4 linked regions of the Homo sapiens genome follow. The protein of the gene in region 1 interacts with the protein of each later gene in a pairwise test. Each region holds a gene or a part of one and is shown in the gene's direction. Other genes may lie near its edges.

Region 1 (5,076 bases):
TGTGCAGAGGAGCGGGGGTGGCTGGAGTTTGGTGGGGACACACTGCCCTAGAGGTCTCTGAGTGGGAGATGGGGGAGGGAGTGCCAAGTCCTTTTCCTACCACCTCACACCCTAGCTCAGGGCTCGGGGTCTGTGGGAGCACAAGGGCAAGACCCGGAGGACACCCTGCTCTAATCAGAACACCTTTTTCTTGAGGATTGGGGTGGGGGAGACGGAGAGAGATTCACAGGTTGCTAGGAGCTCAGACGTGATGCCAGGAGGCCTTGCCCAAGCTGGGATACTTGGGAAACAACTTTCAGCTTCATGTGCAAGTGGAAGAATTAAAATTAGGACTCTGACACAGTTGGAGAGGTCCCCCAAAGGGCATGGCAGCTTCTGCTGCAGTCCCCAGGCAGTTGGGGGCCTGTAGAAACCCACATGGAGGCTGTGCAAGAGGGAGGCAAATGATGGTTGAGGGAATCATTACTTCCTGGAGCCAGTTGTGTGTGTCTTAATTTGAGCTTTTTTCTCCAACCTGTCTTGCTCGTTTTCTAAATGGGAGAAAGATGAAGCCAGCAGGGAGTGCGTAATGTTTGCATGCAGCAGGGCTTTCGTGACTGTGTTTTTTGAAAAGGCCTTGTTAAGGAAATGCTGACGATGAGTGAAACTTGCCAGGTCTGGCTGATAACATGGGTGAGTGCCCTGATCCTGGAAGGAGGTCTCAGAGAGAAGGGACAGCAGGGGGCGAGGGATACCCAGAAGGAAGCTTCTGCATGTGTACGTGGTTCAGGAAATCGGCATGCTCTTGCCCAGACAATGTTCCTTCCCTTATTGGTGTGTTGACTCACCCATCATTCGTTCCATTCTCACTGGGCATCTTCTATGTGGCAGGGCCTGTACCATGTGCTGGGGCCTTTGGAGACCATCCCATTCCTTGTCCAGTCTCATAAAGGCCTGTTACTAAAGCACCGTAGATGCTGAGAGGTCCGATTTGTGTAGAAATCAATGGGCCAGGAGAGAGAGAGCTGATGAAGAATGCTGGTCCGCTGGGGGCTCCTTTGCCTCCTCCATCTCTCCCTGCATCATCAGGCACAGTAGATCTGGGCACACAACCTGCTTAGTAGCTGCTGTTGAGTGGACACTGATGTGCTAAAGACATAGACAATGGTGACAGGAAAGGCTATGAAGTGGTTCTGTCCTGGAAATGTGCTCCAGGCAGAGATTCCCAAAGTCATACGTGCACACTCATGGTCCACCCACCACACCCTCACACACACATGTCTACATACCTTAATATGCACATGCTTACCTATCTCAGACACATCTCCAACACTGAGGGAGGGGCCAACGGAGACGAGCATGGAGACAGCCAGTGCAGAAGGCCATTGAGGGCGGTGGGAGTGGGTATGGGATTGCAGCCCTGAATTCGAGCCCCACCTGTGCCCTTCTGAGTCCCTGATCCATCTCCTCATATGTCATGTGAGGAAGGAAAATCCAATTTTAAATCAACCAACACAGACCCTGAGCTCTCAGGGTGATCTGGGCATTGAGGCTCTGAAGGTGAGTGAGGCCCAGGCTCTACCCTCAAGGAACTGGGAACCAGTTGTATTAATTCTCTATTGCTGCAGAACGATTAACCCTGAAACTTAGCTACTTAAAACAACGAACCATTGTTATCTCACAGTTCCTGTGGCCTGCAATCTCGGTTCAACTTAGCTGGGTACCTTGTGGCTCAGGATCTCACAGAGAAAACTCTTTAGGCAAGAGCATGTGGATTTCCTGAATCACATACACATATAGAAACTTCCTTCTTGGGCATCCCCCACCCCCTGCTGTCCCTTCTCTCTGAGACCTCCTTCTAGGATCAGGGCACTCTCAGAGAAGCAGCCAGCTGTCACCAGGGTTGCTGTCATCTCAAGGCTTAACTGGGGATGGAGAATCTACTTCCAAGCTCATTCAAGAGGCAGTTGGCAGGAAGCCGCAGTTGCTGGCCAAAGGCTGGAGGCCTCCATTTCTTGCTGCAGAGACCTCCATCTAGGCCTTCTGAGTTCTCTCAGCACATGGCAACTGGTTTCCCCCAGAGCAAGTGATCAGAGAAAGAGAAAGAGAATGCAAAACAAGCCACAGTGTCTTTTATAACAATCAGAAGTGACATGCCATCACTTCTGCCAGAGGTTCCTGGGTCACATGAAACAATGCTGATACAACGTGGACTAACTACCCAAGGGTATGAGCACAGGAGGTGGGGATCCCTAGGGGCCATCTTAGAGGCTGTCTACTACACAAGTCAAGTCTCAGCCGAGTGGAAAGTAGTATTGTTGTAGCTGTTGTTATTGTAGGCCACTGCGGACAGTTAGTTGGTCAGCTGGCATCAAGGACTGGGCTCCTGTCTCCATTCCAGGATTCTGCCGAGCCCTCTTGAAGGTGCACAGTGGTAGGGAAGAGATGACTGAAAGGACATCCAGTGCCTTTAGGAGTTGACTGGCAACGTGGGCTGAAGCAAGAGAGAAAATGGGCATCAGAGGGTTCGCCTGCTCCTTGCCTCATCCGTCATGCTGTCCCCACCGCATGGCCCAGTCCCGCTGCTGTTTGTGTGTCTGTGGCCTGGTAACTTAGCCGGGACTCTGAGGGCAAGTCCTGACAGTGTGCCTGGCACACAGGAGGTGGGGGACTGATGACTGATGAGGACCTCTCTGTAAGGAAGAGTCTGGGGGTCCGCATGGGGCTCCTGCTGCCTCTGTTCTCCCAGGTGCCCAGAAAAAAACTAGAAAACATAGTTGGAGGCCAGGCAAGGAGAGGGGCTGGAAGTGTGAGGGGCTTGGGGCAGGGAGAGGCCTCGGCATGTAGACTGTGGCTCTGGCCTGCCAGCCCCTCTCCCCTTCTGTCTTTCCCTCTCTCTTAGGTGTTCCCCTGCTGTTTGTTGTCCCCTGGGGCATTGTCAAGTACCTCTATGAGGACGAGGGGTGAGTGTCCTGCTCCAAGGGGGCGGGTGTGCCCAGGTCCCCATCCTCAAGGTCCATGGGATTCCTTGGTACCTGGGGCACCCATCTGTTGAGAGGATAAAGGGGGGTACCAGGAGCTTAGAAGGTGAATTTAGTTCTCTAATCTCCCCTCCCTGCCCCTGCCCCTGCCCCTGCCCCTGTCCCAGGATTGTTTGATGACTAACGGAACTGGGTCTGTGGGGTACATGGTGCCCTCCTGCAGGTTTTTCTGTAATATCTGCAAGTGAAATGTTTGTGTCATTTTGTATATGATGCTGGGTACACACATGACTGTGTTGGTAGGTCCTTGAAAGCTTGTTTGGGGGCTGTGTGCATCTCTGTGTATGACTGTGTATTTGGACTATGCGTGTGTGTTGTGTGGCTGTGCACTGGCAGGGCTCTGTGGGTCCATGGGACTGGTTTTTGGGTGGCTCCTGGGAGCTGTGTGTGTGGCACTCAACATGGCCATGTGCATTGGCGGCCTCTGTGCCTGCACCTGAGCTGGGGGTCCTGTGAGTCCTGCTGGATGCATGTGTGCATCTCTCTCCCTCCCCAGCTGCTGGACCAGGAACTCCAACATGAACTACTGGCTCATTATCCGGCTGCCCATTCTCTTTGCCATTGGGGTGAGTGATGGTGTCAGGGATGGGAGTGGCAGCTATGATAGGGCTGGGCTGGTGCCCCCTGCCAATCCCCGGCCCCACCCCGCAGGTGAACTTCCTCATCTTTGTTCGGGTCATCTGCATCGTGGTATCCAAACTGAAGGCCAATCTCATGTGCAAGACAGACATCAAATGCAGGTGATGTAACTGAGCTGGCTTTACTGAGGACCCTCAGCAAGTGCCCCTTTCCTTCTAGCAGAGAGAGAGAGAGAGATCCTGGGATGCTTAGCTTAGAGCCCTACACTACCCTCTCCTTCCACCCAGGCCTGGCCTTGGACCCCAAACCCTTGCTTTTGCCCTGTCTCTGGGCAGCCCCTGGACTTGTTGGGGTCTTGACCTCTATTCTTTCCCTCCAGGCAGCCTGTCCCAGGGTATTTGGGGTGGGAGAACATCCATGACCCAGATATCAGGACTTGGTAGGAAGTGGGGAGGGTAGAGAAAGGGAAGAAGAGTCCATGGGAGAGGTCCAGAATGACTCGAGATCTCTGCCCTGCCCCTCAGACTTGCCAAGTCCACGCTGACACTCATCCCCCTGCTGGGGACTCATGAGGTCATCTTTGCCTTTGTGATGGACGAGCACGCCCGGGGGACCCTGCGCTTCATCAAGCTGTTTACAGAGCTCTCCTTCACCTCCTTCCAGGTGACTTCATGCTTGGGGACACTTGCTTGTAAAGTCCTAGAGTGGGGGTGGGACAGACACCAGCCTGCATCATGCAGATGGAAAAGGTGGGAAGACTGGGACCTGGAGGGGTGATCCCTGCCCAAAGTCACCTAGTTGGAGCAGAGCCAGAACTAGTATCCCCAGGTGTCCCAATACCTGGGCCAGTCTTCTCTGTAAGCACATGGGACAAGAAGCCTTCCTGGATGTAGCTCTGGGTACCAGCCTGGCATTGCAGCTGCCATCTACTTGGTGGCGAGCACCCTGCCAGGTGCTTTACATGCATTGTGCATTTACTCCTCACAGAACCCAGGAGATGTGCAGGGTTAGCCTCACTTTACAGAGGAGACTCAGAGGTGTTAAAACCAGAGTTACGGTGTCACAGTTTCAAAGAAAAGAACTGATCCTCTCCACTAGCATTAGATGATGCTAAGGGGGTGTAAAAATACAAAAAAACTGGTCCCTGCCTGCCCCTCAAGAGTGTCATGAGATGCCTGCACACATGTGGGCTCATGTGTGTGTATTTACATACATGTGCAGACATACAGAACACAATTCTGGAGCCCTGGGTCTCCTTCATGAACAGATGGGGCTGGAGTGGGGAATATTCTCCATGATCAGAGTCATTGTACTTCACTGGATCAGGCCTCCTCAAGGAGAGGTTGGATGTAGGATCTCTACAGCTTCTGGGCAGCTTCTGAGCAGGGTCTCCTGGACCCCATGGCACATGCCTGGGAGACCCATGGGGAGAGGCTAGCTGGGGCCTGTAGCCAGGCCTAGTCGCAGAGGTGCAACC
Region 2 (3,500 bases), on another chromosome or scaffold:
CAACTTTAATCAGAGATAAGTTGCCAGGGCTTACATGTGAGCACAAGGTAGGCGTTCGTTGGTGAATATCTTTAAGATCAAAGGATGCCAGGAGCGGTGGCTCGTGCCTGTCATCCTAGCACTTTAGGAGGCCAATGCAGTAGGATCACTTGAGGCCAGGAGTTCAAGACCAGACTGGACAACATAGTGAGACTCCATCTCTACAAAAAAAATTTTTTTAAGTCACAAGGATGGGTTTTCCAGTGTAATACTTTAAGATGTAAGTTGGGGTTCTAATGAAATGATGTGATCTAATGGAATATAATTAACTCAAAGAAGATTTGGAAAAAGCTTTTAATGAAGTAGCATTGAAATTTATTTCACTGTTTCTTGGTCCTTCTGATTGGCCCTACGATTTATTTTGTTTAATATTTAGTGGTATGACCCACAGTGAAATTAAACTTGAAGTGTCTCTAGTACTAAAAGAAGATAATAGTGGATGAGCGTGTGACTTATCCATGGAAGAGAAGAAAAGTGAAGAGTTCTTTTGTTTTTTAAGAGACAGACTTAGTATTGTTGCCTAGGCTGGTCTCCAGAGCTCAGGCGATCCTTCCCACCTCAGCCTCCCAAGTAGCTGGGACTATAGGTGTGAGATTTTTAGAAATCCTTCATGTAATAAAAATATTTAAGAAGGGAAAATAGAACTCCTAAATGTTTTTGGCATGTCATTCCCTTCATTTAGTAATTGGGTTTGCATGCTTTTCTTGACAAAGGAATTTCTGTACCGCAGAGAGCTTTTTCACTGTGACTATGCTGTGTTTAGCAAAGAAGAGTTTGCCTAATTGATTTCAAACTGATTTCCATACACAGAACATATAACGTTTTAGTAGATATATCTGATAGTTCAGTAATTAATTCACCTAGTTGTATTAGCTCATACTCATACACCACACACGCTGGCCAAAACCCATTGCAGCAAATGTGGGCAACAAAAAAAATCAGCTTTCAACTGGGGAGAGCCACCTTGCAAAAGTGATTGTTCCTGGTAAGTCCTCTCAAGAATTGAAAGATATCATGCCTTGCCTCTGAACAATGCAAGGAAAGAGGCTTGCTGCTGAACATAGACAGTAAAGTCTAAACATTTTATAGCCTTAGATAATGGTTTCTTTGGGAAAGACCTTAAAATAGGAGTTACTGGGGAATGTTTATTAATAATCACGTAGTGCTGAGAAGGAGGATGTCTTAAAAACCAGACTTGTGTCCTGATTCTCCCATCTGTCAGCTCAGCAAGCTTAACACAAGTTATATAGCTTTACTGAATCTTAAGTTTCCCCATCTACACATAGGCTTTGGTAATACTTACTTCACGGGTTGTTGTGAGGAATAAGTGAAGTAATACACGTAAATACACATGTCATAAAGCATATCCTCAATAAATATTGGTTGATTCCAAATTTCATATTGTGGCATTGTTTAGATCACCTACCCTAAAATAAAACTTGATCTGCTTATCTAGCGGATGTTAGTGAAATGACTTCAGCTGATAAAAGGAAAATGCATTTCCTGTGTGTTTATCATTCAAGGTGAAACAGGAGAGAAGTATATAATAGTTTGTTTAAAATACTATCGATAGCTGGCCGACACAGTGGCTCACACCTGTAATCCCAGCACTTTGGGAGGCCAAGGCTGGTGGATCACTTGAGGTCAGGAGTTTGAGACCAGCCTGGCCAACGTGGCGAAACCCCACCTCTACTAAAAATACAAAAATTAGCCAGGCTTGAATGGTGCACGCCTGTAGTCCCAGCTACTCGGGAGGCTGAGGTGTGAGAATGGCCTGAACCCAAGAGGTGGAAGCTGCAGTAAGCCGAGATCGTGCCACTGCACTCCAGCCTGGGTGACAGAGCGAGGCTTGGTCTCAAAAAAAAAAAAAAAAAAAAAGGTCCCAGCTACTTGGGAGGCTGAGGTGTGAGAATTGCTTGAACCCAAGAGGTGGAAGCTGCAGTGAGCTGAGATTGCGCCACTGCACTCCAGCTTGGGTGACAGAGCAAGGCTTGGTCTCAAAAAAAAAAAAAGTCCCAGCTACCCCGGGGACTGAGGCAGGAGAATCGCTTGAACCCAGGAGGTGGAGGCTGCAGTGAGCCGAGATTGCGCTACTGCACTCCAGCCTGGGCGACAGAGCGAGACTCCATCTCAAAAACTAAATAAATTAAAATACTACTGATAGGAACTTAACCCTTGAAAATTCCAGATGTTCACATTTTCACAAAGGGAAGGAGGGCAAATTCTGTGAACTTTACTATGCTAGATAAGGAAGCCTAACTCCAATCCTACGTGAGATTTCTGTCTTGAGTCGTTAACAATACTCTTTCTGAGTACTTAAATGCAGTGAAGCCTCCTGGGATACCACAGGGATTGGCCAACAACTACAGGCACAACTCATTTCCTTTTAAAATGGATTTACAACCCTGGGAGACTAGGAAAATTCAGATATTATAATGGGATTTCAGCAGGCTGTTCCTCTAAAGAGCTAAACAATTTTATTCAGAAGTTGCTAGTTAATGGGAAGGGGCAGCCTCTGGCAGCTTTGTCCTCACCTCTGTTCTCTTTTGTTAGTAACTTAGATGGAAATACTGATTACATGCTGATCCTAAATTCAGGAAGTTGAGACAGTAAATCTGTAGTGTGTCAGAATCCACATCCAGAAAATCTTCATAGGCAAGAATGTAATAAGATGAAACTCAATTACAGGTATATTAAGGCCTATGCTTGGGCCTCTGAATCCAACTGTACAGGTGGGAGCTTAGCACAATCAAGTGTGAAAAAGAACTTGGTGTTTTAGGGAGTTACTCTCATGTGATATTCAGAAAATTTGTAAAGCCAATGCAGGCTGGGTGCGGTGGCTCATGCCTGTAATCACAGCATGTTGGGAGGCTAAAGCAGGAGGATCACTTGAGGCCAAGAGTTCAAGACCAGCCTAGGCAATATGGTGAGACCTTGTTTCTAACAAAAACAAAAAACCTCAGTACAACTTCAGGTTGCATTAATTGAAATTCGTTAGCCAGAATATGAGAACTGAGATCCCATTATGTTCTGACCAGGGTGACTTTACCTCATTTTAATATATGTCCATCAAACTGGAGCATGTGTAAAGAGGAAGACAAAAGGGAAATAGGTAGCTAGGAAACATGCTAGTCAGAGGAATGGCTTAAAGATCTGCATGTCTATTCTAGAGAACACAGTATTTGGAGGCTGTTTTCAGGTATTGGAGCACTTATTTAGAAGGGAGAGCACATTATCTCAAAAGGTAGATTTAAGGCCGGGCGTGGTGGCTCACGCCTGTAATACCAACACTTTGGGAGGCTAGGGCTGGGTGTATCACTTGAGGTCAGGAATTAGAGACCAGCCTGGCCAACATAGTGAAACCCCGTCTCTACTAAAAATACAAAAATCACCCGCGTATGGTCGTGGGCACCTGTAATCCCAGCTACCAGGTGGCTGAGGTGGGAGGATCACATGAGCCT
Region 3 (3,500 bases), on another chromosome or scaffold:
TTGTCCTTTCAGCTCATCACCCTGAGAACAAACCCAGATGCAGCAACGCAGAACAGGCGATTCCAGTTCACTCAGAATCAGAAGAAAGAAGATTCTAAAACGTCCACCTCGGTCACCAGTGTGAACCAAGCCAGCACATCCCGCCTGGAGGGCCTACAGTCAGAAAACCATCGCCTGCGAATGAAGATCACAGAGGTACCTCCCTCTGCATCTGGTAGCTGGGCCCTGTCTGCCACTGAAGCCCCTCTAACCCTGTGCGGGGACTCTCAGGCTCCTCTAGACCATCCCTGCAGCATGACCGTGCAGTCTCATCAGCTGCAGTTGCAGCTGCGAGAGCCAGGGGTGACATAAACCACACAGAGGCATTTGTCAGAATCCAACATGAGCTTATTGCCCACCTCACCCAGGCTCTTGGAGGCCAGCAACACCTGATTCAAGCCATCCCCAGACAGAAAGGAACTCAGGGAGATTTGTGAGCTTCTGGATTATCATAGCTTCCTACGTCAGTGTCTCTTTATCTGTGTCTCTCTCCCTCTCAGTTTTTCACTCTCCCAGCACAACCCAGCAACCACCACATCTATGTGATGTACAAGAGAAGAGAAAGTGAAAAGAAACTTTTCAAGAGAGAGTGCTGCAGCAGACCTCGCCTTTGTCCTGAGGGTTCTCAACTGGTTCTTGAATATTCCAGAGAGACCATAGCCAGATTGCCTTGTGCCCAAGCCAGGCTTGGCTTGTAGACCAGGGAAGGGAAAACAAATTACCTCCCCTCCTCTACCCCTCCCTTTGGGTTGGAGGTATGCCTGAACCCGTGCTCTGCAGGCTGTGTGTTGCTTTAATAGAGGAATTCTGATTAGGGAGGGGGACAGGAAAGGGACCAAGGAAAGTACATTGGTTACAATGCTGGCTAAACAAGGCCCCAAAATAAAGTGGCCCAGAGAAAATATGTTTATTTCCCTTTTACCTAATGGCCGTGAAAAGAGAGGGCCCGGTTGGGGCAGCTCTGCTCCCCAAGGTCATTGCTGGGCTTGGTTCCTGCCCTCTGGTTTTCCCCACTCTCCAGGGTGTTCTCTTCATTCATAGCGGGAGAGCTGGGTGGACAGCATGTCCTGTTCACAGTGTCAGGAGGGGAAGAGATAGAAAGTCCACATGAGGGATTGCCTTTTAAGCAGTAACACCAAAAATTGTGCATATTTTGGTTCTGCCCTAGTCACATCAACAAAAACTGACATGAGCACACCTAGTGAGAGGAGAGGCTGGGAAACGTCGTCTCTAGCTGGACAGCTGCAAGGAAGAAGTGAGACATAGGGTTGCCAGATTAGATATGGGATGCCCAGTTAAATTCAGACTTCAGATCAACAACCAATCATATTTTCAGTAAAAGTTTAGCCCAAGTAATACTTGAATATACTTATACTAAAAAAGAACCCATTATCTGAAACTCAAATTTGACTGGACATTCTGGATTTTTATTTGCTAGATCTGGCCGCCCTTTGGGGGGCTCACAGAATTCTGCCACAGAGAGCCACCATACAGTTGTCTGTGCACCTAAAGATGACTGCTTTAGGATGAGGTAACCCACCATCAGCTGCCAGAGCAAACTAAGAAGGGTTTCTGTCCCCCAAAGCCCATTACAGGCTCTGTTTCAATATCAGACCTCTCCTGATGAGTACGACCATGTCACTGCATTTCACTTCTACTTGCACACTTCAGCAATGAAGAGTTCAGTCACATTAGGAAACCCAGGCCACTATTTAAAACTCTTAAATGTTGTGTTATTTTTCCCGGAAATGAATCACAATCTGGCCTCCTGTTGTCCCCACCCTTTGATCCTACTCCTGCCATTTAAGTCACATAGAAAAGAGTATCTCTTTCCCTCCTCCTCCACATGAAAACGTGTTAAACAATTTCATGGCTGTGTTCCTGACATCAGAACAGCCTCTGATAGTTTATCAGGTCTCCTCCCTTATACTACAGCAGGATGCTGTTTGGAAAAATCCTCTAACCATGTTTTTCCTGTGCTCTTGCACCAACACAACAGTCAACGCAGAAGACTTCTGTGACCAAATGTGTGTGGGGTTTTCCCCACCAACGAGCAGCAGGCACCCGCTGGGTGCCTCCAGTTCAAATCCAATGCTACATATCTAGAGATAGCTTCAGATCCCACAGGTTGAGGGCTCAGTCCCCAAGGCTCCCCCTGACCCCCACCCTACCCTCAGATACCAGTCATAAGTCAGGCCTCTGGAACTTCTGACCAGCCAGCTTCAAGTTGGGACTCCCAGGATCCTGCTTTGGGTTGAATTAATTTGCTAGAGGGGCTCACGGAACCCAGGGAAACACATTTACCAGCTTATTACCAAGGACATGAATGAAGAGATGCACAGAGCGAGGACGGGTGAAGGGGTGTGGAGCTTCCCTGCCTCCCTGGGCCCCATGCTCCAGGAACCTTCACGTGTTCAGCTACCCAGAAGATCTTCATACCCTGTTCTTTTGAGTTTTTATGGAGGCTTCATTACACGAGGCATGACTGACAACTGTGTAGAAATGTGATTGGACAAAAATGCATGATCTAAACCCAGCAAGGCCTTTCTGCTCAGAATTTTCTTGGCCTCTCTGTAGCATTCCTTCCTCCAGGGTATGGGGCAAGACTTTCTCTCTGTGATAAAGGTCTTTTGACCTACATCAGATTACAGTCCTGCCTTGAGCAGGTGAGAAAGGACAGGAGAAGGTCAGAGAGAGTGATTCTGTTTCATGAGGCCCGCTCCTGAGGCCTAAAATGCCCCAACATTATAACAAAAGACTCTTACAAGAGATATAGCAGCCAGGAATCATGGATGAAAGCCATTCTATTATACAGATATGGTAATATCACAGATGTTCAACACCCATCCCGACTACCACCCCCAACAACTACCAACACTCATATTGCCCAGGCTTCTCTGGGGCTGAATTGCCCCCAGGACTTGCACCTGATTTTTGTATAACCTGGGAATGGGCCAGGTGCTGTGGCTCACACCTGTAATCCCAACGCTTTGGGAGGACAAAGTGGGAGGATCGCTCGAGCCCAGGAGTTCAAGACCGGCCTGGGCAACATAGAGAAGACTTGTCTCTAAAAATAAAAACGTGGGGATGACTGGGACCCATCCTGATTAACTCCTCTGAGTGAGACCCTGCAGGTCAGAGTCTCCATGATAGTGTGAGGCTCAGAGCTCGCGAGCCCTGCATGTCTGTCCTCCACTGTGGGTCCTATTAAGTATCAGTAATAGTAATTATAAGGCCAGGCACAGTAGTTCATGCCTGTAAACCCAGCACTTTGGGAGGCCAAAGTGGGAGGATTGCTTGAGCTCAGGAGTTCAAGACCAGCCTGAGGAACATAGAGAGACCCCATCTCTACCAAAAAAAAAAAAAATTAGCCAGACATGGTAGCATGCACGTGTAGTCCCAGCTACTCAGGAGGGTGAGACAGGAGGATTGCTTGAGCCTAGGAGATCAAGGTTGCAGTA
Region 4 (4,217 bases), on another chromosome or scaffold:
TCAGCTCCTCCCCCTCAGGCTGGGAGGATAGCACAGGCTAGGGGCTCGGGGTGGAGGGTCTCAGCTCTGCTGCCCCCACCCCAGTACTAGCCTAGCTTCCCAAGCTGTGGCTTAGAGGATAGTTGGCTTCCTGCCTCTCTCCTCTAAAATAGCAAGTCTGGGAAATCCTGGGGTGAGTGGAGTCACCCCACTCCCAGTTGCTGGCAGAGACTGAGACTAAAGCATCACTTAATAAACCCCCCAAGCCCAATCCCTGTCTCCTGGTGCCTGTCTGTACAGAAGTTTCATTGGGGGGTGGGGCACTGAAGATGGCATCCTGAAATGCATTTTGGAAAGGCTTCTTTGAAGTGGATGGAACAGAACAAGAAGCAGGCAATTTGAGTGAAGGCCCTGGAGATGGTTTGATAGGCACTGTCAAGTTCCTTGACTGTAAACTGAGGCGGTGCCTTTGCAGGGGTGATAGTGAAAATCTCTTGCCAGCAACATCGCTGCCTGGGGTTGGTTCGCTGTCACTAGCTGGGTCCTCTTCCCCAAGGGGGTGGGGAGGTGAGCCTTGAAACCAGCCTCTGGCCAGGCGTAGTGGCTCACGCCTGTAATCCCAGCACTGGGAGGCTGAGGCGGGTGGATCACAAGGTCAGATCGAGACCATCCTGGCTAACACGGTGAAACCCCATCTCTACTAAAAATACAAAAAAAAATTAGCTGGGCATGGTGGCGGGTGCCTGTAGTCCCAGCTACTCGGGAGGCTGAGGCAGGAGAATGGCGTGAACCCGGGAGGCGAAGCTTGCAGTGAGCCAATATCGCGCCACTGCACTCCAGCTTGGGTGACAGAGCGAGACTCCACCTTAAAAAAAAAAAAAAAAAAACCAGCCTCTGAGTCCTCAAGTGCCTGTCCTGCAAGGATTGGCATCTCAAATTGTATTCGGGGGGGGGGGGGGGGGGAGGGGGAGGTGGTGAGCCTGGTGAATCCCCCATGATAGAACCAACATTTACCAAAGGCAGTTTGCTCTGAGCCCTAGGCAGCACCAGGTGCTAAGAGGCAGCAAAGCATGGTGAGAGATGGCTTCTGAAATCTGTTCTGCATTTGGGGATTTGGGTTCCTCTGCCAGCCTAAGGCAGAGCTGTCCCCAACTGCTGGGAGAACCTGGAACGGGAACACTGCTCTGAGTCGCCGGGGGGACTCTACAGCACCATGGCCACATCCTGCCTTGGGCCCCTACCCTGTTCTAGCCAGTCAGCACAGGGAGTTTGGGTCGTGCTGGAGGAGCTGGCTGTGTGCAGGCGGCCGAGTGAGCTGCCTGCTAATGGGGCTGGGCCACCCCGTGCTGCTCCCTGGAGGCTGGACAAGGCTGGGATTGTTCCCTGGCTCCCCTTTGTCTCCCCACTCCCCGCCCAGGCCTGGCCCGCCTGCCTGGCCACTCTTCCTCCATCAGCCTGGCTGGCAGCAGCCTTGGACTCCGCCCGTGGAGCCCTGGGCCTGTTGACCCACCAGCTTAGGAGCACCCACCAAGCTCTGGGTAAGGAAGCTCACCTTCTGGGGCTCTTCTGGGAAAATAGAGGTAAAGCATCTTGCTCCAGCCACCCCTCCCCCATTTCCATAGCAACTGCACACACTCCACTCCAGAGATCTCCAAACCCTACTACTAAGGGAAGGCACCGTGAGGGCAGCTAGACCCCAGCGTATTCCTCACTCCTCCCCCAGATAGATGGGCAGCACTCAGGGTAGGGGAGACCCCCGACCATCCCACTTGTGGGAGCGAGCAAGGGATACCCTGGGAGGCCCTCATCCATCTTTGTTCTGCTGGGGTGCAGGGACTAGGGCCAGGTTTGCCTTTGCCCAGCAGGGTCTCCAGCACCCATCTCGGGCAGAGGCTGGGGGAGTGACTGCTGGTGCAAGCCCCAAAGTGCATGCGGCAAAAACATGGATGCAGAGCTGGTGGCAAGAAGAGGGGCTAAGTTATAGAGTTGCTGCAAAGTTTTGGCCTGGGGAGGTGGGGGGAGTGTCCTAGTCCTCCTCCTGGGGCGGCTCCGCCTGCCCAGCTGGCCCAGCCCCTCCACTTGTGCCAAGGAATGTGCCGGGAGAGGCGGGCGGGGCAGCAGAGCTGCGGCCACCCGGAGGCAGTGCACAGGTCTGGGGCTGAGGGATACCTGGGCTCAGGAGGGGCAGGGACCCCAAAATTCTCCTGGGGGCACAAGTGTAGTCCTCAGAGAAAAGCCAGGCATCCCCCTACCTCCTTGTCCCACCTGATGGCATCTGGCTTCTCCAGAGATTCGGAGTGCCAAGAGTGTTCTGTGCTCAGTTCAGGCGCTGTGGGCGAAGCACATTCTGGTGGGAAAGGGAGTGGTACTCAGGCTGTCTCTGTGCTGGCCTCCAGGAGTCAGGATTCTTCCTGAGACAAAAACTGGGGCCTGCGGGGCTGGATCACTATTTGAGGCAGCCTCCCGGCTGGGAGGACCCCGCCACTCTTTGCTGGGCTGAGGCCGCCAAGCCCCTCAGTGTGGGGACTGAATGCCCCAAGGAGAACAGGGGTTGGAGTTAAGTGGTGCAAGGGCTGGGGAAGGTGGACCAGCTTCCCCAGGCCTGAAGGAAGCAGCTCCAGGAGGGAGGGTGCCATCTGCCTCCCACACGCACAGCCCATCCTGCGGCTGAACCCAGGTGAAAGGGGCCTGTGGATGGGGGCAGTTATCTGATCCCCTACCTCCCACTCTGTCTCTAGGTCAACGTGGAGGTACCAGGCCACCATGCTCAGTCTCAAGCTGCCCCAACTTCTTCAAGTCCACCAGGTCCCCCGGGTGAGGGGCTCCACCCACTGACCCACCAACCCCCATTCCCTAGAGGACTGACTAGGGGCTGACGTTCTTCTCTTTTAGCTATTGGGGCAGCCCCTCCTGCAGGCGAACTCTTACCCTCCCATTCCAGTGTGAGACTCTTCCTCTGTTCTCTGAGGAACAAGCTTGTGGCCCTCCATCTGGAGTCCCCTTCCCCAGAGCGCCCTGTGTGCTGCGCTCCACCCCCATCCCACCCCAATCTGGCTCTTCGGTTTCCTATTTGTTTTGTGGGTTGTGGGTACTGGGACCTGTGGTAACATCAGATCAGATTTAGTTTGGCTTGGGGGCCACGTTGATCTCCAGCCCAGCCTCTTTGACCCTGCTTCCAGAGATCTCAGATGGAGGGAAAGGGTCCGGGCACAGTGACGCCCTTCCTCTCCCACCACTACCCTAGGTGTTCTGGGAAGATGGCATCATGTCTGGCTACCGCCGCCCCACCAGCTCGGCTTTGGACTGTGTCCTCAGCTCCTTCCAGATGACCAACGAGACGGTCAACATCTGGACTCACTTCCTGCCCACCTGGTGAGGGGAGGCTCCGCCCCAGGCCGCGGCCTTGAGCTCAGAGGGGGTACCCAGGCGGGCAGGGACCGTCCAGGCCCACGGGCTGCAGCGGCAGTCGCGGGGGTCCGCGGCGGCCTGAGCACGCGCCCGCCGCAGGTACTTCCTGTGGCGGCTCCTGGCGCTGGCGGGCGGCCCCGGCTTCCGTGCGGAGCCGTACCACTGGCCGCTGCTGGTCTTCCTGCTGCCCGCCTGCCTCTACCCCTTCGCGTCGTGCTGCGCGCACACCTTCAGCTCCATGTCGCCCCGCATGCGCCACATCTGCTACTTCCTCGACTACGGCGCGCTCAGCCTCTACAGTCTGGGTGAGCCGGACAGGCGCGGGAGCGCGGGGTCTGGGCGTCCCGGAGCGGGGCGAGGGGTGGGACGCGGGACATAGGGGCGCGCCCCTCAGGCCTCAGCTGCACGCCCCCACCTCACCGCAGGCTGCGCCTTCCCCTATGCCGCCTACTCCATGCCGGCCTCCTGGCTGCACGGCCACCTGCACCAGTTCTTTGTGCCTGCCGCCGCACTCAACTCCTTCCTGTGCACCGGCCTCTCCTGCTACTCCCGGTGGGTTCCCAGGCCCCTCCAGTGGGGACGGGGAAGGCGGAGGCACAGGAGAGGACACACCTCACTGCTCTCGAACAGCACTGGAGGCATCGGGACCATGTACTGAGGACTTCCTCTGTCAGACCCTTTATCCCCACATACAGATGTGGTCCTTTACACAGGAGGTCATATGCCCTAACGGTTTTCTTAGCTGCAGGCTGTGCTGATATTCCATCTTTGCCCAAGTCCTCTTGCCTTTCTCTGACCCCTACCCCAAGCACAGCGATGGTGACCGGCCT

Evidence for each region. Proteins that work in one complex are often made in the same cells at the same time.
Region 2: the proteins of GLP1R (region 1) and LAPTM4A interact in a protein complementation assay, tested with the Homo sapiens proteins (one large-scale study listed by BioGRID).
Region 3: the proteins of GLP1R (region 1) and GABBR2 interact in a protein complementation assay, tested with the Homo sapiens proteins (one study listed by BioGRID).
Region 4: the proteins of GLP1R (region 1) and PAQR6 interact in a protein complementation assay, tested with the Homo sapiens proteins (one study listed by BioGRID).

The regions. Positions count from the first base shown.
Region 1 is NC_000006.12:39,075,441-39,080,516, forward strand, and holds part of GLP1R (glucagon-like peptide 1 receptor precursor), read left to right. Parts: intron 1-2,089; exon of another isoform or gene 2,090-2,473; intron 2,474-2,881; coding exon 2,882-2,942; exon of another isoform or gene 2,943-3,027; intron 3,028-3,456; exon of another isoform or gene 3,457-3,516; coding exon 3,517-3,586; intron 3,587-3,671; coding exon 3,672-3,760; intron 3,761-4,123; coding exon 4,124-4,262; intron 4,263-5,076.
Region 2 is NC_000002.12:20,041,629-20,045,128, reverse strand, and holds part of LAPTM4A (lysosomal-associated transmembrane protein 4A), read left to right. Parts: intron 1-3,500. UniProt on the Homo sapiens protein: May function in the transport of nucleosides and/or nucleoside derivatives between the cytosol and the lumen of an intracellular membrane-bound compartment.
Region 3 is NC_000009.12:98,299,936-98,303,435, reverse strand, and holds part of GABBR2 (gamma-aminobutyric acid type B receptor subunit 2 precursor), read left to right. Parts: intron 1-12; coding exon 13-195; intron 196-3,500. UniProt on the Homo sapiens protein: Component of a heterodimeric G-protein coupled receptor for GABA, formed by GABBR1 and GABBR2. Within the heterodimeric GABA receptor, only GABBR1 seems to bind agonists, while GABBR2 mediates coupling to G proteins.
Region 4 is NC_000001.11:156,245,257-156,249,473, reverse strand, and holds the start of PAQR6 (membrane progestin receptor delta), read left to right. Parts: upstream 1-1,417; 5' UTR 1,418-1,517; exon of another isoform or gene 1,518-1,559; intron 1,560-1,841; exon of another isoform or gene 1,842-1,964; intron 1,965-2,717; 5' UTR 2,718-2,742; coding exon 2,743-2,793; intron 2,794-3,223; coding exon 3,224-3,351; exon of another isoform or gene 3,352-3,486; coding exon 3,487-3,692; intron 3,693-3,812; coding exon 3,813-3,939; intron 3,940-4,217. UniProt on the Homo sapiens protein: Plasma membrane progesterone (P4) receptor coupled to G proteins. Seems to act through a G(s) mediated pathway. Involved in neurosteroid inhibition of apoptosis. May be involved in regulating rapid P4 signaling in the nervous system.